Homo sapiens: one gene and its partners. The protein of the gene in region 2 purifies or fractionates together with the protein of the main gene of each other region. This does not show direct contact. Each region holds a gene or a part of one and is shown on either strand. Other genes may lie near its edges. The genes, in order: MTX1, LPAR4, TTK and SPG7.

What was found.
Region 1: the proteins of LPAR4 (region 2) and MTX1 purify together in Homo sapiens (affinity purification with mass spectrometry; 2 studies listed by BioGRID and IntAct, with this or other methods). This does not show direct contact.
Region 3: the proteins of LPAR4 (region 2) and TTK purify together in Homo sapiens (affinity purification with mass spectrometry; 2 studies listed by BioGRID and IntAct, with this or other methods). This does not show direct contact.
Region 4: the proteins of LPAR4 (region 2) and SPG7 purify together in Homo sapiens (affinity purification with mass spectrometry; 2 studies listed by BioGRID and IntAct, with this or other methods). This does not show direct contact.

What each region holds. Positions count from the first base shown.
Region 1 is NC_000001.11:155,211,683-155,214,360, reverse strand, and holds the end of MTX1 (metaxin-1), read right to left. Parts: intron 2,235-2,678; coding exon 2,142-2,234; intron 1,977-2,141; coding exon 1,794-1,976; intron 1,668-1,793; coding exon 1,591-1,667; intron 1,125-1,590; coding exon 970-1,124; intron 878-969; coding exon 663-877; 3' UTR 538-662; downstream 1-537. UniProt on the Homo sapiens protein: Involved in transport of proteins into the mitochondrion. Essential for embryonic development.
Region 2 is NC_000023.11:78,743,520-78,750,719, reverse strand, and holds the start of LPAR4 (lysophosphatidic acid receptor 4), read right to left. Parts: upstream 3,001-7,200; 5' UTR 2,686-3,000; exon of another isoform or gene 2,534-2,685; intron 1,820-2,533; exon of another isoform or gene 547-1,819; 5' UTR 497-546; exon of another isoform or gene 1-496. UniProt on the Homo sapiens protein: Receptor for lysophosphatidic acid (LPA), a mediator of diverse cellular activities. Transduces a signal by increasing the intracellular calcium ions and by stimulating adenylyl cyclase activity.
Region 3 is NC_000006.12:79,999,833-80,007,690, forward strand, and holds the start of TTK (dual specificity protein kinase TTK), read left to right. Parts: upstream 1-4,816; 5' UTR 4,817-4,881; intron 4,882-5,997; exon of another isoform or gene 5,998-6,009; 5' UTR 6,010-6,011; coding exon 6,012-6,150; intron 6,151-6,272; exon of another isoform or gene 6,273-6,343; intron 6,344-7,858.
Region 4 is NC_000016.10:89,511,403-89,518,451, reverse strand, and holds part of SPG7 (mitochondrial inner membrane m-AAA protease component paraplegin isoform 1 precursor), read right to left. Parts: intron 5,505-7,049; coding exon 5,415-5,504; intron 1-5,414. UniProt on the Homo sapiens protein: Catalytic component of the m-AAA protease, a protease that plays a key role in proteostasis of inner mitochondrial membrane proteins, and which is essential for axonal and neuron development.

The DNA of each region.
Region 1 (2,678 bases), on a different chromosome or scaffold from region 2:
GATACTCAAGGAGGCACTGGGCTCAGCCTGGGCATTAAAGGGACAGAGTCAGCTCACACGCTGTCTGTGACTAAAGAGGGCACAGCAGGGCCAGTGTGAGCTTACAGCGACGTAAGCCCAGGGGCAATGGTTTGGGTGACTCACTTTCCCCTCTAGGTGGTGCCAGGGGCTGGAGGCCCCTAGAAAAAGATCAGTAAGCCCCAGTGTCCCCCCAGCCCCCATGCTTATGTGAACATGCGCTGTGTGCTGCTTGCTTTGGAAACTGGGCCTGGGTCCAGGCCTAGGGTGAGCTCACTGTCCGTACAAACACAAGATCAGGGCTGAGGGTAAGGAAAAGAAGAGACTAGGAAAGCTGGGCCCAAAACTGGAGACTGTTTGTCTTTCCTGGAGATGCAGAACTGGGCCCGTGGAGCAGCAGTGTCAGCATCAGGGCGGAAGCCTTAAAGCAGCAGCGGGTGTGCCCAGGCACCCAGATGATTCCTATGGCACCAGCCAGGAAAAATGGCAGCTCTTAAAGGAGAAAATGTTTGAGCCCAGTCAGTGTGAGTGGCTTTATTCTGGGTGGCAGCACCCCGTGTCCGGCTGTACCAACAACGAGGAGGCACGGGGGCCTCTGGAATGCATGAGAGTAGAAAAACCAGTCTTGGGAGCGTGAGGACAAATCATTCCTCTTCATCCTCCTCAGCCATGCCCAGGGTCCGGGTGCCTGGGGCCCGAGCAGGCGTTGCCCGCTGGATGGAGACAATGCCGCTGAGCAAGGCGTAGCCCACCATGGCTGCCAGTCCTGCCAGCACAGATAGGATCTGGTTCCGGCGCCGGTATGGCTCCTCCTCAGTCTCTGGGCCTGCTGGTGTCTGGCGTTGCGGTGGTACCTCAGCTGAGGGTCAAGGAAGGAAGGTGTGTTAGGAGAACTAGTTCTTGGATCCCTGCCCACTCTCCCCAGGGCTGCCCCTCCCATCTGCCCCTTACCTCCATCCCAGGGGAAGTAGAGACTGAGAATGTGGGTACAATAGGCACAGAGGTTGTGCAGCCCACGCAGGTGGACCTGCAGCTTCCCACTGGGCAGCTTTGCCTGCAGCAGCAGGGCCAAGTAGCTGAAGACGAAGGCGTCCAAGGAGGCAGGGCTGGAGCAGAGAGAGAAGGGTGGGATGGAGGAGAACCACTGGGGTAGAAGGGGTAAAGATGGAGCTGGAGGAAGAGTCAGCCTTGGGAGGTGGGCTCTGGGCAGCAGGCGGCCACCAGGGAAGGACAGGACACACAGTTCTAGACCTGGTATGGGGAGAGATCCCCAGGTGGCGCCAGCCTGGCCCTGAATAGGGCTCTATCCCAGGGCTGCATAAAGGGCACATTCAGTGCCCCACAGCTCTTCAGGCCCCTCCTGTGCCTGGCTGCCCTCCCACCCTACCCTTTTGTACCTCTGAGAAGGCTCTGGCCCCCACACAGTCACACTGTCACTAGGGCCAGTTTCTATCCCAGGGACCTCCTATCCAGAGCCTGAGCCAGCCCCAGCCCCAGCCCCAGCTCCAGCTGCTCCATCTGAACCTGTATCTTCTTCCAAGCCACCCATTACCCTCTTGGAGTCAGACTCACGCATCTCCAAAGAAGAACTTTTGAGAGCCCAGGCGCTGAGAGAGCAGGGTCAGACACTCCCGAGCCTCTCGGTACAGCTGTAGGGGCGACACAGGTAGGCTTGCAGCTGTGGGAACAGTGCCACCTCCCCACCTAAGCACTCCCATTCCTGGCCAGCATCCTTGGGGCTCATCTCATACAATAGCCCCCGGTCTCAGAGCTACCTCCTTCTCCAGCTCTTCCTCGTCCTCAGGCCTGTGCTCCCCAGTCAGCAGCTGTAGCCGTTCCATGTACTGCCGCTGCATGCGGCCAGGCAGGAAGAAGTTGAGGGGAAAGGGCATAGCCTCTGCATACCACTTCCGGGTCACTTCCACGTAGTTCTTGGTGTCTATCCAAAAAGTATGTACCTGGATTGGGTGGGCAGGAAGAAACAGGTAGGTCTGAGCCAGTGCACCTGTCTGATTCAAGGTGGGCTTCTGACCCCCATGCTTTCCTGAGCCTGTGTGTGGGTCTGTGTGTTCCCGAACCCTCCCCGGCTGGCCATGGATGCTGGGAGGTCTGGGCACACTCACCAGCACCGGGAGCAACTTCTCCTCCAGGAGAGACATGAAGGCCAGGGTGTCTGCCCCTTGCCGAGCTGACAGATCATAATCAGCATTGTACTTCTGTGGAGGAAATATCCATGGCGTGGACACTAGGGAGCTGCAAGGGCACTTCACCAGGGAGGAAGGAGTCCTGTCTGGTACCCCCCTCACTGGCCTCTGAGTGCAGTGGAGGTACAGCAAGGAACTTTTCCTGCCAAGGCCCCCTTGCCTGGGCCCAGCCAGTAGCCTGTTGCTGTTGGCGAAAAGCCTGGGCCTTGGAGCCTCCTGGCCGTGAAGGTCCAGCGCCCAATGCAGGGAAGGAAGGAAGGCTCCGCCGCAAACTAGGAGCAGCTCCCAGAATTTCCATGGAAAGCTGGAACAACGCCCGCTGACGGCAACTTTCTAACAGTAACTTCCCCGACCCAGACACCACAAAGCTAGCACAACGGAGCTCAGATGCAGGCTAGGACTCGGTCCATGCCTCAGGAACCAGAGAAAGCCATCCTCACACTCCCTGGATCCAGG
Region 2 (7,200 bases):
GAAGAGGGAAGAGGAAAGATGACTGGAACAACAGGTGGAGACTCCACTGTCTTGTTTTTTACCTACACCCCACACAATTTCTCTCTCCACTGAACTACAGTGATATGATCAAGGCTTCAATTCAAACACTGACTGACAATCACTGCACCTTTACCAGGATGTCCTAGGCCTACCCAATATAGCATGTCTGTAACATCTCCAATTCAAACTCTGCACAAAATATTTGTATAAAACCAGAAATACTCTGCGATGGAATTCTTAGGAGTAGCAACCGCATTTAGAATTTACCCATTACAGTGCTTCCATCTGTAAAGTAGAATCATCCCCTAGCTCCAAACGTACACTATTGTTACATCTCATCCTTTTCTAAACAGAGGTAGCCTAAAACAAAGCAAACTTCTAAATAGTATTACAACTCTCCTGAAATGATTTTTCTATAATCTAAAAAAACAAAATAAGTACAATGATTAGATAATTTAAGATACATTGAGATCACCTTAATATTAAGGAGAGTTGATTTTCACACTCCTCCAGAAATCTGTCTTCCTGGAATGAAATGAATATTTTATTCCATTTTATTGGTTTATCGTAAAGGAAAACAGAAGCATTAACATTATTTTATGCCTTTCACAGTTGATAACGATTATACAAAAAACCTTTTATTCAAAATCCAAGCAAATTAGGAAGTTCAAATACCCAGAAGTTTTTATAACTGATATTAATTAAATATAGACACATCCAGCCCCATCACGAGCTCTGTGAGAGCAAGTCACAGTCCATTTCTGAGTCTCAGTTTCTCTTCTCCTTTAATCTTCAGTCTTGACTGACAGAAAAGCAACCTTCAATGAGTGCCATGCTGGTGGCCTTACTGGCTGTTCTTTTCCATCATTTATTTTCACCTGCTTACATTGGCCACTGTAAAACATTTTTTATTTCCTCAAAGTCTGCAAGCAAGGAGGGTCATTAATTTTTATTAGACTTAATGAAATGATTGCTAGATTTATTTGAATATTAGAAATAAATAGTATTAATTAATACCGGAAGCTAAGAATCACAGAGAAAGATGCCACTAATATCCTAAAGTCTTCCAAATTCCCTTATTTTCCTCATCCTCTGTCCTTGTGCTCATTTCAGCAGGCATATCACCTCTAATTGTTTAGGTCTCAACCCTCAACCCTTCCCACCTGTTTCCTGGTCACTTCACCCCTCAGAATATGAGGTTATCGGCATATTTCAGGACATAACCATGTAGAATCATTAGATCATTTACCCGTTACATTGTTCTGATAACTGATTATTTATCCGCTTAAAGTAAAGGTGGATTCCCAGTGGTAGGTAACCTTTTATTGGGCTCCCAATTTTCAGTACTAATATTCGCAAACACATTACAGGTTTTGTTCTTCCCCCAACAAGAAGGCCAAGGGCAGACTATATGTGATGACCATATACACAGACAAAAGGTAGCTACACAATTAGGCGCTGAACAAACCACAGCAAGGGCAACAATTCTCACTGCATTTTCCCAAAAGGCAATTGAATAGATCAAGCTTTAGCTAAGCTTGGCCTGAATGTTTCTGTGAGGCATCTTCCTGGTTCTCCCTTTAACTTGCAGAGAGCACACATTCTGAAAGACTGGCCTGATTGTTCCAATAAGGCTTTCATTCCCATCTCTGATTGGCAGGAGAGACTTTAGAATGTAGATGCCATCAAGTTTATCAGGTGAACTCATCCTTCTTGGCAAGAGTGCAACTTTTCATCTGTGACAAGGCAAAAGGTTTTATAATCTATGTTGATGGGATATGATGTTGGGAATTTTGTTCTGAAAAATAAACGTGTTGCAAAGCCATTGGGTAATCTGGATCTCAGGTTATTATTATTGTCTTTATGTTAGTCAAGATAAAGAAAGATGGTATAATTTTGTAAGGTAGCAAAGTGAATAACCCCACCAAGCTCTGAAATATTCTAACCTTTGAATTTGTCTGGTCTTTTCCACACTGAAATAATGATAAATTACATTGCTGAATTTCCTTTTAAAAGGTAACTGAAATACTGTATTTAGCAACTCAATAAGACCTTTTTACTGAAAATATTTAAAATTTACAAGAAGAGAGTTTAAAGATGACACATTGATGCATTTGTATGGCAAACAGCAATTAATTTCACATATAATTGCAAATTCAGTTTATGACAGAGTTTTTCATTCAAACATGATTCTTCCTTTATGGGCAAGTTCATGAATTATTCAATATAGCAAATGTCACATTCTCCATAAATCAATTAAGCATCAAAGACATGTCATGTATAGTTTTACTAGAAGAAACCTCATCATAATACAAGCCACGTTAGCGCACAATAAACTGTAAACCAAAGAAATACAAAGCTAGTCGACATACTTTCTAAATTGTTCTACACTGTGATTTTAAATTAGCTCTTTAGAACAACTGTGTTTACATGAAACAGCAGCCTGAAAATCCTGTATGTCTTCCACGGAAACAATATTATTGCCAAAACAATGGAAATTCTCGTTTTTTACCATTCATCACGAAGATCCTTGTTCAGTACTTCAGAGTTGAAGTCTAACTTCTTTCCTTACACTCTCAAAGCATCAGTGTTTCCACTGTAGTTTGTTATGCTATCCCCCACCCCCAAACGCCAAAATCAAATCTTTTTAAAAGAGAAACTTACCCCAAGAAAGAGTGTGCTAGATGAGAGAATGTGCTGATGCCTGTAGATAATTAGCTAATAAACATGTAAATGGGCAACTCGCCCTTTGGAAGTGCATATTTTTATCCATTTTTTTTTTTTTTTTTTTTTTTTTTTTTTTACAGGGAAAGGTTAGCCCAGCCTAAAGTAGCAGACTCTGGGCTGCCGCAGCTTTTTACTGCAAACCGCTCATTCTGTAAATGTGAGCTTATTTACATTTATCTCTTTCCCTTTGTTAACGACTCCCTCTCTTGAATGCTGTAGCCCGCATGCCTTTAGCAAACAGGACACAAAAAGGCCTGAAGTCCGAGCTGGAGCCGACGGCCAGGGGAACTCTTGGGGGTCTCAATAGGAAATGCTTTTCATTGGCTAAGGAGGCATTATTAGGAGTCTAGATCCCGCCCAATTCCCTGTGCTCCATCGTTCCCTTAGTCACCAGTCACTGGACTGAATAAGTTTTTCCTTAAAGAGCATTGCCCAGGAAAAGCAGTTTCACAGTCAAGAATTAATGGCTTAAGTGCCACTTGACAATATAAAAAGTGTCTTTCCTGACCAATTAATCCACAGAGAAAGCCTGTGTGCCTGTCTTTGCCGCAGGACTGCAGAGGAGGAGACAACATTTCAAACAAGGAGGAGTGTTTCAATTATGCATACCATGTTCGCTCCTACTTGTTTAAAATAATTACAACAATATTGATAATAATAAGTAGGGGGCAAGGAAAAGGCAAAAATGAAAGGTACCATAAAAATATTCCTATCACACTGTGCAAAATTCAATCTCCCACCATCACAAAAATATAAAGTAAATTTTAATACTACACTCACTTAAGCCAGATAAGTGCCCTCAGATAGAGATGTACTAGGGTCCCAGAGCTCTGACACCCACCTTCCAAGGACTAGGGAGTGTTCTGTAGCAAAAGGAGGGTCTACACTTCTCAAGTAACTGCCTCGCAGTAAGTCTAATTACCATGAAAATTTCAGAGATTTGCTAAAATACAAAATAAATAGCACAGATGCAATCTATTTACAATAGAGAGTTATCTGCAACTGTATACCTCCGCCCACCTCCCCCATGGCAAGATTTTCTTTTCTAATTATCTACAGGTTTACTGCCTTGGTCACTCACAATTCTTTTTTTTTTTCCTCCCTATATTTTCCTCTTCACCTCCCTCTCCTTGATCTGATTTTGTGGCAGAAACCCACTCATCCATCTGTAACTTCATTGTTGGCCCTTCCCCTCTGCCAGCCCACCCCTGCAAGCCTTCTCTACTCTATCTCCACCCACTGCAAAAGCCACCAACAGCAGCCCCTCCCCCTCCTCTGGAATGAAATTCTCTGCCCAGGGATAAGGTGCTTTCTTTCTCTTGGCAGAGCAGAGCCCCTGGAGTCTTGGAGGATCCTCTATTTGCTTCAGAACTTCAGTTTGTGTAATTAAGCTGCCTCCCAAGTAGGGCATGTTTCAAGCTTGTTTATTCTCCCTATTTGTTCAGCTCTATTGTGGCTCTTCTCACTATCAGTGGAGGCCAGTAAACAAGTTAGTGTGAAGCTGACACTAGCCTTATTACTTGTAACTGGCTCTAAAAAAACACTTTCTCTGTTGCTTCCTCTTCTCCATCCCACCGCCCATCTCTGTTCTTTTTATTCCCCTCTCTGCTTATCTCAAATATGTCTATTTCTGTCAGTTGCTGACATTGTCTGTGTCTTTATAAATGGTCTTTTACCAACTCTCATCCTAGACCAGTACTCGGTGCATTTGTCAGTCCACAGGCGAAAGATACAGTCTCTACCCTGCAGTATGCCAGAGTCTAGGTAGGGACACAAAGACACATGAAAAAAGTGGGATACCAAAGGTAAATTTTGAAAAAAAAAATACCAAGGCAGTTATATGGAGATTGAGTTCTGTAATAGATCAGAGGATGGAGATGAAGTCCCATGGATAGGGCCAGGAGGGTTTCTTAGAAGAAGTGGGATTTGTGCCACATTTTGGTGGATGATTCAGTATTAAATAAACCAAGAATGGAAGGGGATATATTTCTAGGTGGGCAGAGCAAAGTGATCAAATGCAGAAGATGTAAAGTGAGAGTAGGTGAGAAGGAGACCAGTTTGTAAAGGGAAAATAAGGGTAAGGAGAAAAGCTTTTGAGAGGAGTACTTTACTGTAGCAACTCAATGCACTATAGTGATTGAAGGGTTAACCTATAGTCATGATCACTGTCTGTCTATATGATCAGCTCACTACCTTTCTCCTCTTCAAATTAATAGCCATAAGTTTTCCAATTCTTCTGTCTTCATTTCTCCCTCAAGGACACAAGTACTTTGCTGATTAATCTCACCAATGTAGCAGATCTTTTACAATGTCACTGGGTCACGTGCTCTTTTAGCATCAGTCTTCCTCCCTTCTGAGTTTCAGCCTCATTGATCCTCTTCCAGCCCCTAGAATGAGATAGGATCACTCATGCCATGGATATTTCTAAGTGCTATTTCCTCTGCCTGGAACACTCTCCTCCCTCTCTAATCTTCCTTTCACCAGTTTAATCCTTATTCTCCCTTCAAATCCTATCCCAATAATCACGCCTTCAGGGAATCCTTCCTTAACCCCTCATTTAGGTCATATCCACATACTATATGTCCTATAGCATCATGGACCTTTCATGTATTGCATTTTTTACTGGTATAATTTTACATACCGTTGTGTAATTTGTTTGTGTGACAATTTTATTAACATTGATTTCTCCCAACTGTAAACTCCAAGAGGATAGGATTAATATCTGCTTAATCCAAAAAGGATAGTGGTGTTTGCAAAAAATTATTCTCCCTGACCTTCTGTTTTACCCAACCAAAGCAACAACTAGACTTTTTTTACTTATCAGCTGAAAACATGCATCATTTTGCCCATTTTTGCACAAATTTACACCAAGATATTATTTTAGGCCAAAGAATACACACAAATAAAGAAAAAAAAATCCCATTAACAAGAAAGTACTAAGGCTTATCCACTACCATCCCCTTTTTCCTTTAACTCACTTATTGCTGCAAACCTTATAGTTTTGCTTGCTCTAACATTTGTAAGGTGGAAGGGGGAAAACAAAAGTCTTCCCAGGGTTTTCTCCAATCAGCCAGTTTATATCTGTAAAACTTAACTCAAAATGTTCTTTAAAAAAAAGACACTCGTTGAGTTTTTGATGTCTATGCTACTGGGGGAGGAAATGAATATGTCGCTTAAAAAGTGCATTCAGAACTGTCTGGGGGAATATGCATTTCATTTTTTTATCTGTTTGAAAAGAAAGTAACTGAAATATGACTAACTTCCAACTGGAAATTTACACATTTGATTAAGAACAACCAGATGCTTGGGACCTTCACACTTCAAACCCAAATTAATTTTTCTTTCTGCCAACAATATCAAAGGACTGGGTGAAATCACCCATAGTGCAAGTAGTTCAGCACTATGCCAGGTTCCCTAGAAACAGTATAAATGTAACCAAAGGATTTTAACCATGCCTGTATCATTCCAGCTAACAGTTTTGGTAACTCTGATAGTCTTTAAGTGAACACAGTACCTGGACCATGTTCTAGGGAAAGGGAGCCAGTTAATTACTAACTTTGCATTAATTAGTGGATGTCTTTTTTTTTCTGAGACAGGGTCTCATTCTGTTGCCCAGGCTGGAGTGCAGTGGTGCAATATCTGCTCACTGCAACCTCTAATTAGCGGATATATTGAAGTCTTCCAGGAAACAAAGAAAGGCAAAATCCTGGATCCTGCAGCCATTTCTTTTTTATACAATCTTCTTTTTTGCTTCAGTGGAAAAAAGGATCACAAGGCCAGGTTCCCCATCAGCTCATTTAGGACACTAAGTCTCTGAAAGGGGGTAAAATTTATTTTCAAGCAAATTCCCTACAAGATTTTTAGCTCATCCTTAACACTGGATTACCTTTACTTCCTAGTGTTTTCTCAAACAACTGAGCTTTCCTGCTCACTCACTGAACCAGCTTAGGAAACAAGTTTCCATTGCTAGAAGTGGAGTTGGTAGTTACAGAAAATGAACACTTTAACCTAAGAACTTTGGGAAAAGCCCAGGAACTTTGCATGTTTGATATAGGTTAGAAAAATTTCAAGGTAACAATAAAAATAATGACTGTAGAAAACATTTTGTCAGCATTATTACATGTCAGGTAATATTCTAAGTCCTTTACATATATTTATTTACGTAATTTGCACAACTCCATGATGTAGTCACTGTTATTCCTATTTTATACTTGAGAAAAATCAGCCACAGAAAGTTTAAGTAAATTGCTCAAACTCACACAGCTAATAATTCCTCCATTAATTCTGATAATTTCTAGGCTAATAGTTATAATCATACCTTCATTTGGTAGTACACTCAGAACTCTGTCCAAATCATCTTGTTCATGAGCAAATATAAGGATTCTATCTTTTGTGATGCAAACTCCTCACTAGAAGTCGACCAACCTTGCTAACAAAATGTGTAGCTTTTGA
Region 3 (7,858 bases), on a different chromosome or scaffold from region 2:
CAGAAGGGGTCTAAAATTCTAAAATCTACATTGAGATTATAGAGATTAATAGCTTCCAAATTCTACCTTTTCCAAAAAGGTAACACTTGTCCATCCATTTCTGGCTTTCTATCATTGCTTCTACTTATTATGACTTTTCAGAGATTGCCAGCAATGTTTCTGGGATTATATTTGCACGTTTTTTTTCAATATCCTGCTTATTTTCTTCAGGATATTGTGGTATATTAACCAACTACGTGAGGCTCTCTCTATATAGCAGAGACTGAAAATGTATGGAGATATATATATATATATATATATATATTTTTTTTTTTTTTTTTTTTGAGACAGAGTTTCGCCCTTATTGCCCAGGCTGGAGTGCAATGGCGAGATCTTGGCTCACCACAACCTCTGCCTCCCAGTTTCAAGTGATTCTCCTGCCTCAGCCTTCCGTGTAGCTGGGATTACAGGCATGCACCAGCACGCCTGGCTAATTTTGTATTTTTAGTAGAGACGGGGTTTCTCCATGTTGGTCAGGCTGGTCTCGAACTCCTGACCTCAGGTGATCTGCCCCGCCTCAGCCTCCCAAAGTGCTAGGATTACAGGCATGAGCCACTGCACCCAACCTGGATACATTTAAAAAAAAATTATGGCCAGGTGTGATGGTAATCACAGACCATCACAATGCTTCCCTGCACTTTGGGAGGCCGAGGCAGGTGCATTGCTTGAGCTCAGGAGTTTGAGACCAGCCTGGGCAACATGGCAAAACCCTGTCTCTACAAAAAATACAACAATTAGTCGGGTGTTGTGGCATGAACCTGTAGTACTAGTTACTTGGGAGTCTCAGGTGGAAGGATGGCTTGAGCTCAGGAGGTAGAAGTTGCAGTGAACCAAGATCACACCACTGCACTCCAGCCTGGGTGACAAAGCCAGAGCCTATCTCTCTCTCTCACACACACACACACACACACATACATACACACACACTTCATTTGTGTCAGAGAGTTTGGATGGAATTTAAATGTCTTTCTTATATAGCCTGTCCTGTATTTATTTTTAAGATTGTCAGTCTGACTGCTATTCTTCATATTGGAGAAAAAAGAAAAATAGGAACTGAGAATCCTACTTTTCTTCTGCTGTTTGTTAGCATAGTTTATTGCCTGCATGATTAAATAATACCTGATGTCCAAGTAGTGGTCCTAACTCGTCACTGCTGTTTTCCTTTGTAGAACATAATCTAAGCTGTCATTGCTGTTTTTCTTTGTGATCTATGAGGTACGTTGGTACCTCTCCTTGGCATTATTTTCTTTTCTTTTGGGTATGGCTTGGTCCATTCTGTGATAGTTAGCTTTCCTGACAGTATTCATACAGGTCTCAACATTCTTATGGGCTCACGTCACTCCTAAATGCACTAAAATCAGCATACACTAGTAATGTTTTATCCAGAATAAACCACCATAAAGCAGCACACAACTGATTGCATGCTGTAAGAACTGGATTTATTATTGATCAGAAATTTAACTTTTGTATATGCACAAAATAAATTCATGTATAATAATTAGTTTCTAAAATCAAAGTTTGGGCCTTACTGAGCTTGTGTAACAATGACCTCAATAATTGAAAAAAAAATTCCTTGGAGGGGATTTAAATAAATAAGTAAATAAATAATGGAATAAAAAAGGCAGCTGTGCTGACAGAGAAGTCAAAGATCAGCAAAAAAGTTTCATGATGATAATGACAAAGTTAAACATTCGAAACTTTTGTTTATGTGACAAAAATGTGAAACTTACCATCTTACAATAAGTCATAATCTTATGGCTAATTTTATTGCTTTGTGAAAGGCTTGACTCTGAAAATGAACAAGTTTATTCACTGTCAGATGCAGCTGATTTAAAGCCAAATGAGAAACTGTGATGCAAGAAGTATACAAATGTGTTAAATAAAATAGGATTCTTAAATACTCTAATGGTTGTAAATATTAGTATTTAGCTAACATTTATTAAGTGCCTACAAATGTACCAGGCACTGTTCTAAGCACTAAGGATGCTGTAATGAACAAAGTAGACAAAAATTCCTGTATTATGGAGTTTACATTCTAGTGGGGGTAAAGTTTGGAGAGTCAGAAAATAAACAAGATAAATAAATAGGTCAAATAGGTAAAACTGTAGGATTTTACAGATCACCGCTGTCCAGTGGAAACACAATGTAAGCTATATATGTAATTTTCAATTTCCTACTAGCCATATTAAAGTATAAAAAGAAACAGGTGAAATTAAATTTTCATAAACTTTTTATTTTTGAATAATTTTTAATTTACAAAAAAATTCCAAGTGTATTAAATAGTACAGTGAATTGCTGTATACTGTTCATTGTTTTTCTGTTAAGATCTCGCATTACTGTGATGCATTTTTCAAAACCAAGAAACCAACATTAGTGCATTTTCATTAACTAAACCTCAGACTTTATTTGAATTTTACTAATTTTTCAATTAATGTCATCCTCCTGTTTCAGGATCCAGTTTATGATATCACAGTGCATTTAGTTGTCATGTCTTCTTAGTCTCCTCTGTGATGGGGTGGTATTAATTTTAATAATATATTTTATTTAACTCAATATAGCAAAAATATCATTTTAACCTGTAATTGATATTTTTAAAATTATCAATGTTTATTACTTTTTCTTATTCAGTCTTCAAAATCCAGAGTGTATTTTATACTTAACAGTACATCACATTTCATACTCAGACACTTTCACTGGAAATACTTCATCTGCATTTGGTTCTCACAAAATTTACAGTTGAAAAAGTAGGTTCATATACTTACATTGTTCCAAGTATACTTAAAAGTCTTCCAATAAATTCATGACTAATGCAAGTTTAGAAAAAAGAAAGCAAAAAAAATTACTTTAAATAGTTTAAAAATAATCCCATTAGATATCAGTTTTCAAATTTAAATATAAATTTAATTAATCAATTAAGGTTAATTGATTTAAAAATTCAGTTCCCAGTTGCACTAGACATACTCAAGTGCTCAATAGTCACAGACCATCACAAGGACTTTTGATTTTATTCCGAGCTAGAAAGGGAGCACTGAAGGGTTTTGAGCAAAGTAGTGACATAATCTGATTTAAGATGACTTTGCTATGTCAGAGAATAAATTGAGGTGAGGCAAGGGCAGAAGCAGGGAGACCAGCCAGGAGGCTACTGCAGGTAACATCAGTTAAGTGATGCAGATGCCTTGGACTGAAGTGGTGGCAGTGGAGGTGGGGAGAACTGGTAGGAGTCCAGGAATCTCTTGTGCCAGCCCTGACTCAATCTGCTTATGAGTTAGATAAGGGATCAGGGATGACACAAAGGTTTTGGGGCTAAAAAATTTAAGACAATGAATTTGTCTTTTATAGATTTTGTAAAAAAAACAGGTTTGGGTAGGAAGATCAGGGGCTTGGTTTTGGACATTTTGAGTTCAAGATGCGTATGAGACATGTAAGTGAAGATGTTAATAAGTAGGCAGTGGATATCTGAGTATGGAGTTGAGGAGAGCTCAGCTAATGATACACATTTGGGAGCCATCAACATATAGATGGTATTTAAAAATAGAAGACTGAAGGAGACCACCAAACGAGAGTACAGAAAGAAGTGTTAGGGTGAGGTCATCCAGCAACAGTATTTTAAGGAAAATGCAAGCTTTGTGATCAGGCCGCAAACAGATCAACGAGAATTGGAGGAATAATAAACTCTTTCCAGGCAGAAGCATTAGATGCAATGGTGCAAAGGTAAGTGATTAGCCAACCATGGTATAGCAAGTCATTTTGCTCTGCTGAAGCAGAAATACTAGCTAGCTGACACAGAAAGATGCATTAAGTGATTGAGAAGGGCTCTCACGCTAGCTGGGTGGCTATCCAGAGCTGGGAATGTGAGGGTTCTAAGGATAGCTTTGGAGTTAACAAGTGACAGCTGCAGTTAGTTTCCTATACATACACAAAACCAACCCGTCCTACCACAGAATATATGTCATAATGCTGGCACAACAGACACATCCCTTTTAGTTTTGCAGACGAGGAGTAACCGTTGCCCTGGACCACAAAGCCACTTAGCGGCAGAGCCTCGCACCCGCGAAGATTATTACTAGGGAGATGTTTTTACCCCTGAGGACACCTGAGCCCTTAAGTGGGGCAGGCTTCGAGGGAGGGGGGCCGATAAGGCGACTTCAGACAGGGCAATCACGATGGGCGCTTGAGTTCTGCGCAGAATTTTGACAAGGGGGAGGGTCTTGGCTTGAAGACAGAGCGTGGAGTCATTTAAGGATAATGGAAGGGCATAAGCAGAAGCTCAAGGATAAAAAGCACTGAAATTCTTGAGCTGGCGGCAGGGCTGAACGTAGCTCAGTGAAAGATCCTTTCTTGCCACATCCTCTCTAAGCCAGGCTGTGAGAACCGCGGGAAACGAAGGAGAAGGGTGGCGGTGGGGTCAGTAAAGGGCCGGCCCAAGGTGCATCTTTTAGGTCCTGATGCTAGGAGCAGCCGTCCCTGCCCCTATATTCCTCTCACTGGGTAGGTTTGCTCGGGAGTGGCTACCTCCCAGGCAAAAATTCGGCCTGGTTAAACTGGAAAGACCAGGAAAGCCCGCCCACGGGCGTCCGGGGAACGCCTGCAAAGTGCCAGCACCCTACCAACCCAGGCGCCGCACGGGTGGGGTCGCGGCCGCAGGCTCTTCCGGGGCGGGCCTAGCCTGACGCAGGAGGAGGGGCGGCCCCCGTCGCACAAGAACCAATCACGACTGTCGCTTCTACGTGGCTAGCATTGACCAATAGGAGACCGTAGTGATAGCGACGGGGAAATTCAAACGTGTTTGCGGAAAGGAGTTTGGGTTCCATCTTTTCATTTCCCCAGCGCAGCTTTCTGTAGGTAAGTTCTGTCTTACCGGTGCACCGGCGCACTGAGGAACAGCCGCAGCCGGTGTAGGGGCTCATTGTTAGCGCTGGTCGGTGAGGGGTGGGGCGAGGTGGGGGCAGCTCGGAGCCAGGTATGCGACGCGGCTAAACGAGCTGGAGGGGGAGGGGATGTCTCACTGCCTCAGCGGGTCTGGCCGGTGGGGTGATGCAGGAGGTTTTGTTGAGGAAGTAAGAAGTGGGTGTGGCCCACGCTGGAAAGAAGGGGTGGTGGGGTACCTGCGCACAAGATCGTTTTCCAAAGGACAGTCTCTCTTGTTTTGGGGGTTAGAACTGGGAAAGAAGCGGGTGGCCGTGATCTGACAGTTATCTTTCAAACCTGACTTAAGAGGTGGAGTGATACCTTGCTGCAACTTTATGACTTTTTTTCATTGTTAAACCTGAAGACGGGGCAGCATTGTTATCAGTGACACTGAGTTGGTGTTTGAGAGTCACAAAGATACGATTAACAATAAGACTGCAGACACTTTATTGAACAAACACCACCACCATGCAGATAAGCAAGTGCTCAGTACCAGTACAATAGTTTCTTAGTGTTAGATTAAGGTAGCAAATCGTGATTCTGCTAGATATGCACAAGAATAAATCTGCGGATTTCCTAATTATCAGTAAAGCCCCATCATGTTTATATTCTGCTTTGAAAGCACTTGCACTGGAAGATTTACTCAAGTAAAGCAGGCGAATAAAGGAATTGTTATTCCCATTGCCAAACGAATTCTTTATGTCTATGTCACTACCAGAATCCAAGCAATCTTTATGTGTATGTCGCTACCAAAATCCAAGCAAACACTCTATCATATTTTTTTTAAGTGACACTAAATTTGCAGATTTCTACAGTGTGACGTCATTGATGTTATATTGGGGGAAAAAGTATACTTGGCCTATGAAACCTTGGTGAATAAATTACAAAGATGTGTACCTTGTTGTTGTGCACTTACCTCCATTAATACTAGCCTAATAATAGCTGCATTTAGATGTGTTCACAAAACGAATGCTTTAGTCGTCTGGGTTCTAAAAAGCTAGTGCATTTTTTTCTTTGATGCTAGTTAAAGTAGGAGTTATGACTGTTCAGTTTTTTTCTTAGAAATGGAATCCGAGGATTTAAGTGGCAGAGAATTGACAATTGATTCCATAATGAACAAAGTGAGAGACATTAAAAATAAGTTTAAAAATGAAGACCTTACTGATGAACTAAGCTTGAATAAAATTTCTGCTGATACTACAGGTGAGTTTTTCTTTTCTTTTAAGTTAGTAACTGTTTGTTGGGTATCCTCTAAGGTAAAGATATAGTACTAATCACTTTATTTATAATTTACTCATGTGTTTATTGTCTTTCTCCTCCATTAGAATGCAGGCTACATGATGGCAGGGTTTTTGTCTGTTATATCCACAGAACTTTGAATGGTGTCTGGCACATGGTAGGTAGGCACTTAAACATTTATTGAACAATGATTAATGGGTGAAAATGCCCAGAGTTTAATACTCTAGCTCTTCTAAAAGTATTAGCTCAGAAGCCTGATTCTTTACTGTATTTCAAATGGTTGGTCATTTGAATGGTGACCTTTGGATAATTTTCTTACATCTATACTAACCTTTAAATAGATGAGGAATTGAAAATAAATGGAAGAACCTGTGATCTAATCATGGTGGCTGACTGTTCACTTTGAAAAAACCTAGAAAATGATAGTTTTAGTGTTAAGCAAAATCTTAATGGAGTATAATTGTGCTTAATTATGTCACTAACAAAGGTTGTACATCAAGGCAATTGAGTATTTTAAGTACTGAGGAAGATTCAAAGATGCTTAAAACCATAGTTTCTTTCTAGATGAGAATTTATATATTCACTATGCTACATTGTAATGCATGCTGGGCATCATAGGAATACTAGCATGATAAAACACAAATGTTTTATTTGTTGATTAGAGGAAGAATAGGGTACTCAGGCATGAGGAATGCATCTGCAAAGCCACAGATGGCAATGTGTGTTTTTTAGACATTTCACAGACTAATTTCTTAGGAAAGCAATAGGAGGTAAAAATAGAAAATTAAGGTCAGACCAAATTAAATTTAAAACGACAAAGCAAAGTTATGCATGCACTATATTTTAGTAGAAAGTAGAAACAAATTTTATTTATAAAAGTAAAGATGTAGGCTTTGTTGAAAGTGACTGAAGTTAATAGAAGGAATAATAGCTTCTCTGGAAATCTGAATTTAATATTGCTTAGTAATAACCAAAATATCCTGAACAGAAGACTGACATTCAAGTTATCTTTTTAAAAAACTAACACTGAAGAAAGTAAAAAGTACATTTCAGTGTGAACATTTTGTCTGAAGGTTATTCTTGCTGTTTCTGTTGGTTGGGGTTCCACAGAGAGAAACCTGACAGTCACAAGAGGTCCTATAAATTCCAAAGGTCTAGACCACGGTAACTATGAGTTTGTTGGACCAAGAAATTATCAGGGCCTCTAGCAGAAATTTAGGTTACTTGGAGAGAAGAAAATGATTGTCTCATTTGTTTATTTTTTGTAAAGCTGGTTTGGTTTTACAAGTAAGTATGAGGTATACAGAGATAATGTTGAATGGTTAAGGTTGTAAAGAAGGTTATGTTAGGACTGGAGCAGTAGGTTTAATGAATAAATCATTGATGGGAGAATTTTCTAAGTTAATTAGTACAAGTGGCAGTGGGAGAGATTTAGTTTTCTATGGATAGGTAGGATGCTAAAATTATAGTTATCCTGCAACAGCATAAAATTTTCTTAAACTACATACAATTTTTAAAGGCTACTTACAAAAAAACTCACTTATTTCCAAATGTTTTCTTTCCTTCAAAATATATAGCTTTTGGATAAAGTATACCTTCATAAAAGATAAATACACGATAAATAAGTTACTTGTATTTATATGAACTTTTACAATTTTAAAAAGTATTATAA
Region 4 (7,049 bases), on a different chromosome or scaffold from region 2:
AGTGAGCGGAGCCTTTTTTCACTCCGTATAATTCCTTCCAGGTTCATTCGTGTTATCAGTGAGTGGTGCCTTTTTTCACTCCGTATAATTCCTTCCAGGTTCACCAGTGTTATCAGTGAGTGGTATTCCAAGCAAATACTTTTCGGGCAACCACTACTTACAATCATTCTGCACGGCTGGCAAAGCTGTTTCTAAGCCACATTCAGTATCGTTCTTTCATTTAAGGAGGTGGCAAAAGAATCTTCATCTGAACAGACGCCATGCAGTTCAGCATCAGACCAGGGAGAAGGCCTGCCTGAGGGCCGGGACTGTGTTGTGCCTGTCTGATCAAGTCAGCAGTCCTGAAAATCCACACAAACCAACTCCCGCCGAAACCACAGCAGAGGGCCCAGGGGAAACCCAGAATAGGTTCTCACAAGAAAGATTATTTGGCTCAGTAAACAATTATCCTCTAACGCAAATTTAACAGACATTATTTTCTCCAAGCAAACTATAGTTCAACCCAAAACAGAATAAACATAAAACAATCACTTGGCCGGGCGTGGTGGCTCACGCCTATAATCCCAGCACTTTGGGAGGCCGAGGTGGGCAGACCACAACGTCAGGAGATCGAGATCATCCTAGCTCACATGGTGAAACTCCGTCTCTACTAAAAACACAAAAAATTAGCCGGGCATGGTTGCGGGCACCTTTAGTCCCAGTTACTCGGGAGGCTGAGGCAGGAGAACTGCTTGAACCCACGAGGTGGAGTTTGCAATGAGCCGAGATCGTGGCATTGCACTCCAACTTCGGCAACAAGAGCGAAGCTCCATCTCAAAAAAAAAAAAAAAAAAAAGACGACGACAATTACTCAGATGCAGGAGAGACACGCATGTCAGCTACACGCAGCCTCATCCATAAGCAGATGCAGGGCCCAGGAGAGCAAAGGGCATGGTGACTGCCTGCCCTTCCTCACGCCAGGGCACCTGCCAATGCAGCAACGACTAGGATTTCACTGGACAAGCACCTACCACATGCCAGGAGTGATAACCAGGAAGCTGCCATGGCTTTGCCTTGCCATGGCAACGGAGGCTGCCATGCCATTCCTTCCAGGAACCATGACAACGGAGGCTGCCATGCCATTCCTTCCAGGAACCATGACAACGGAGGCTGCCATGCCATTCCCTCCAGGAACCATGACAACGGAGGCTGCCATGCCATTCCTTCCAGGAATCAGAGTTATTAGTGGGGCACACGTCCCTGGTTAACCGTAACACAACACACAAGGCTGAATGCAGAATCCGCACAGGCCACACAATTCTTCCCTCTTCTATGACAGGTGACCCTTCAGCAACACAGGAGTGAGCTATGTATGATCACGGACACGTGGATTTTCTTCCACCCCTGCTACCCAAGACAACAAGACCAGCCCCTCGTCCTCCTCCTCAGCCCACTCAAGGTGAAGGCCATGAGGATGAAGCTCTTTATGGTGATCCGCTTCCACTGCATAAATAGGAAATATATTTTCTCTTACGACTTTTTTCTTTTTTCTTTTTTTTTGAGACAAGAGTCTCGCCGTCGCTTTTTTCTTTCTTAATTTTTTTTTTTGAGACAGAGTCTTGCTGTGTCGCCCAGGCTGGAGTGCAGTGGCGCGATCTCGGCTCACTGCAAGCTTCGCCTCTTGGGTTCACGCCATTCTCCTGCCTCAGCCTCCCGACTAGCTGGGGTTACAGGTGCCCACCACCACGCCTAATTTTTTTTTTTTTTTGTATTTTTAGTAGAGACAGGGTTTCACCGTGTTAGCTAAAATGGTCTCGATCTCCTGACCTTGTGATCTGCTCGCCTTGGCCTCCCAAAGTGCTGGGATGACAGGCATGAGCCACCACGCCCGGCCTTTTCTTTCTTAATTTTTTATGTTTGAGACAGAAAGGTCTCACTCTATTATCCAGGCTGAAGTGCAATGGCACAATCTCAGCTCCCTGCAACCTCTGCCTACCAGGTTCAAACGATGCTCACGCCTCAGACTCCGGAGTAGCTGGGATTACAAGCACGTACACCACACCTGGCTAATTTTTTTTTTTTTTGGTATTTTTAGTAGACAAGGGGTTTCACCATGTTAGCCAGGCTGGTCTCGAACTCCTGGCCCCAAGTGATCTAACTTTCTTCTTTTATTAAAAAAACGAACGGCCGGGCGTGGTGGCTCACACCTGTAATCCCAGCACTTTCGGAGACCAAGGCGAGTGGATCACCTGAGGTGAGAAGTTTGAGACTAGCCTGACCAACGTGGCCAAACCAGGTCTCTACCAAAACTACAAAAATTAGCTGGGCTTGGTGTTGCATGCCTGTGATCCCAGCTATTCGTGAGGTTGAGGCAGGAGAATCACTGGAACCCAGGAGGCAGAGGTTCCAGTGATCTGAAATTACGCCATTGCACTCTAGCCTGGGAAACAAGAGTGAAACTCCAGGCTGGGCACGGTGGCTCACACCTGTAATCCCAGCACTTTGGAAGGCCAAGATGGGCAGATCGCCTGACATCGGGAGTTTGAGACCATCCTTGCCAACATGGTGAAACCCTGTCTCTGCTAAAAATACAAAAAATTAGCTGGGCGTGGTGGCGCACGCCTGTAGTCCCAGCTACTCGAGAGGCTGAGGCAGGAGAATCGCCTGAACCCAGGAAGCAGAGGTTGCAGTGAGCCGAGATCGTGCCATTGCACTCTAGCCTGGCGACAGAGCGAGACCCCATCTCAAAAAAAAAAATAATAATAATAATAGTAATAATAATAATAGAAATGAGGGTCTTAAACTCCTGGGCTCAAGTGATCATCCCACCTTGGCCTCCCAAAGTGCTCAGATTACAGGTGTGAGCCACCGCACCTACCCAGCAAATTTTTTTTTATAAAAAGGTCAGCCGGGCGTGGTGGCTCACACCTGTAATCCCAGCACTTTGGGAGGCCGAAGTGGGGAGATCACGAGGTCAGGAGTTCAAGACCAGTCTGGCCAACATGGCAAAACCCTGTATCTACTGAAAATACAAAAATTAGCTGGGCATGGTGGTGCATGCCTGTAATCCCAGCTACTCAGGAGGCTGAGGCAGGAGAATCGCTTGAACTCAGGAGGCAGGGGTTGCACTGAGCCGACATCGCACCACTGGACTCCAGTCTGGGCAACAGAGCGAGACTCCGTTTCAAAAATAAATAAATAAATACAAAATAAAAGTTAAAAAAAAAAAAGGTCCAGGGCTGGGTGCGGTGGCCCACTCCTGTAATCCCAGCACTTTGGGAGGCTGAGGCACGCAGATCACGAGGTCAGGAGATTGAGACCATCCTGGCTAACACGGTGAAACCGAGTCTCTACTAAAAATACAAAAAATGAGCCGGGTATGGTGGCGGGCACCTGTAGTCCCAGCTACTCGGGAGGCTAAGGCAGGAGAATGGCGTGAACCTGGGAGACGGAGCTTGCAGTGAGCTGAGATCACACCACTGCACTCCAGCCCAGGCGACAGAGCGAGACTCCGTCTCAAAAAAAAAAAAAAAAAAAGGTCAAGGCCAGGCACGGTGGTTCACACCTGTAATCTCAGCACTTTGGGAGGCCAAGGTGGGTGAATCACCTGAGGTCAGGAGTTTGAGACCAGCCTGGCCAACAAGACAAAACCTCATCTCTACTATACAAAAAGAGGGCCTGACGCGGTGGCTCACGCCTGTAATCCTAGAACTTTGGGAGGCCAAGGTGAGCAGATCACAAGGTCAGGAGATCGAGACCATCCTGGCTAACATGGTGAAACCCAGTCTCTAATAAAACAAAAAAATTAGCCGGGTGCGGTGGCGGGTGCCTGTAGTCCCAGCTACTAGGGAGGCTGAGGCAGGAGAATGGCATGAACCCAGGAAGTGGAGCTTGCAGTGAGCCGAGATTGTGCCACTGCACTCCAGCCTGGGCGACAGAGCGAGACTCCGTCTCAAAAACAAACAAACGAACAAAAAACAAAAAATTAGCAGGGTGTGGTGGTGAGCACCTGTAATCCCAGCTACTTCGGAGGCTGAGGCAGGAGAATTGCTTGAACCCGGGAGGGGGAGGTTGCATTGAGCTGAGATCGCACCACTGCACTCCAGCCGGGGCAACAGAGTGAGATTCTGGCAAAAAAAAAAAAAAAAAAAAAAAAAAAAAAAAGTCAAAGGACACACTTTATTGAAATGTTGAAGTATACAGGGAAAGAGCCCTGAAATCAATTCAGAACAATTTTGTATGAAGATTCAGAAGTCTTTTAGAAGATAGTTCTGAGTGGCTGTAAGCATTGACACTTACCGTAAAACCAACAGTAAGCTGAAGATGAGCCTAAAGCCAGAAACGCCTAAACTGAATCCACCTGCGAAACACTGGTGTCCCTTCCCGCAGTTATGACCTCCCCTCGAGAGCTCAGTAGGGAGAGTCAGAGCTCCTCTCTCACAGAGTAAAGCTGTCCCTGGCCTTGGCAAATGCAGCGTCTCACACAAAATCAATCAAGAAGGACGTCACTCCTGAAACAAACTCCTGCTAAACTCGAATTCACAATAATAATCCCCTCATCCAATAGCTGAACCATCATTTCCACATCCTGAAAGCTTTCCTGAAAAGCAACATGGGAAGAAAAAGTCCTTATGACAGTTCCTCACTCGCCTTCCAAGGCCAGGTGCCTTTCTAGAAAGATGAGCTCTGCTGAGCAGGGCGTCCATCTTAACAACGCTGATTTCCAGCGAGAGGCCTCAAGGATCCAAAAGCAAAGCATTCCTGAAGCTGAGTTCAACCCTTCTGCCCCCTGGGGCTGTGAGTCTGAAGCTGAGCCTCCAACTCCTGGGCTCAAGCTCCTCCAACTCCTGAGCTATGACTACAGGTGCACACCACCACGCCTGGCCAATTATTTTCTTCTTTTCTTTCTGTATAGATAGGGTCTTTTTAAATTTAAATTTAAATTTTTTTTTTTTTGAGATGGAGTTTTGCTCTTGTTGCTCAGGCTGGAGTGCAATGGCATGATCTCCACTCACAGCAACCTCCACCTCCCAGGTTCAAGCAATTCTCCTGCCTCAGCCTCCCGAGTAGCTGGGATTACAGGCGTGTGCCATCACGCCCGGCTAATTTTCTATTTTTAGTAAAGACGGGGTTTCACCATGTTGGCCAGGGTGCAGGTGATCCGCCTGCCTCAGCCTCCCAAAGTGCTGGGATTACAGGTGTGAGCCACCACGCCCAGCCTTTTAATTTGCAGTGAGACAGGGTCTCGCTATGTGGTATAGGCCTCAAGTGATCCTTCCACCTGGGCCTCCCAAAGCGTTTCGATTACAAGTGTGAGCCACTGCACCCGGCCCATCTCCCCATTTTCCAGACTGGTTTCACCTTGCTAAAAGGAAAACAGAAATGTAAAGACATCCAGAGGCAGCTACTGACTGAAGAACATCAGATGAATATACCTTCGTCCTCTTCAGGCGCCTTCCCCTTCGACTTATCCTTCTCCTTATTCTTCTGCTTCAACCTTGAGGTGTTAAAATAGAAAGTACCACCTATGAGAAATAGAGAAAGGATTTAACAATTAAGTTTTGCAACCACAGGGGAGGCATACAGGACAACAGTGTACTCCTAAATAACCAAAGCAAAACAAAAACCATCTGAAAAACCTACTTATATCCATAAGATTTATAAATATGAAATAAAGCATATCCTATATCACTTAGTCCAGTATTTCCTAATTACAAAATAATAAACTATTTTAACTTACGTTAAATATCTTTGCTACTTAAATTGCTAATGTGAGGGAATAAAAAATAGTTATGAACACAAATTTGGGAAAATATCACGAATCCCTTTAATATATGAAGTTGCTTTAAAAGAACTTAAACACGCCAGGCGTGGTGGCTCATGCCTGTAATCCCAGCACTTTGGGAGACCGAGGCAGGTGGTTCACGAGGTCAGGAGTTCAAGACCAGACTGGCTGAGATGGTGAAACACTGTCTCCACTAAAAATACAAAAATTAGCCGGACGTGTTGGCAGGCGCTTGTAATCCCAGCTACTTGGGAGGCTGAGGCAGAATTGCTTGAACCCGGGAGGCGGAGGTTGCAGTGAGCTGAGATCACACCACTGCACTCCAGCCTGGTTTACAGAGCAAGACTCCGACTCACAAATGGTTTCCAGACAAGTGGCAACAGCAGCAGCCCAGCCACCACCAAGAGGGGCCGGCACGACACTCCTCACACAGAGCTGTCTCAAAATCTGAACAAATCAGCGTTTACAAATGGGGGAGGCCAGGTGCAGTGGCGCACGCCTGTAATCCCAGCACTTTGGGAGGCCGAGTCGGGTGGATCACGAGGTCAGGAGATCGAGACCATCCTGGCTAACATGGTGAAACCCCGTCTCTACTAAAAATACAAAAAATTAGCCGGGCATAGTGGCGGGCACCTGTAATCCCAGCTACTTGGGAGGCTGAGGCAGGAGAATGGCGGGAATCCTGGAGGCAGAGCTTGCAGTGAGCGGAGATCGCGCCACTGCACTCCAGCCTGGGAGACAGAGCAAGACTCCGTCTCAAAAAAATAATAATAAACAACAACAACAACAACAACACAAAAATGTAGCTGTACGTGGTGACACATGCCTGACTTCCCAGCTACTCAGGACGCTGAGTGGGAGGAGAACCTGGGCCCAGGAGGTTGAAGCTGCAGTGAGTAGAGATTGCACCTGGGCAACAGGGCAAGACCCTATCTCAAATAATAATAAAAAATAATAAAAATAGGGAAAGAGTTTCACAACCATGACCTGAAATGTAACTTTCTTCACAAAGACATGAACGGGTTCACCAGTGAAACGGCCCCGGTTGCCACTTGCATGTCACCTCAGGCTTAAGGAGGCTGAAGCATGTGCTTCCTGTTTCACAGCCACAGGCACCCGTGAGCTGACGTTAAACACTGACAGCAGATGAGCCAGTTGCTGATGCACGGCCAGTGGGCACGGCACTCTCCCTACCCATGTGTTGGCACAAAGCTGTTTAATGTTAGTTAGGAGTAGAAATATTTTACTTTTTCCCTGTTCCAACTCCATAAAGGGGAGCGTGAAA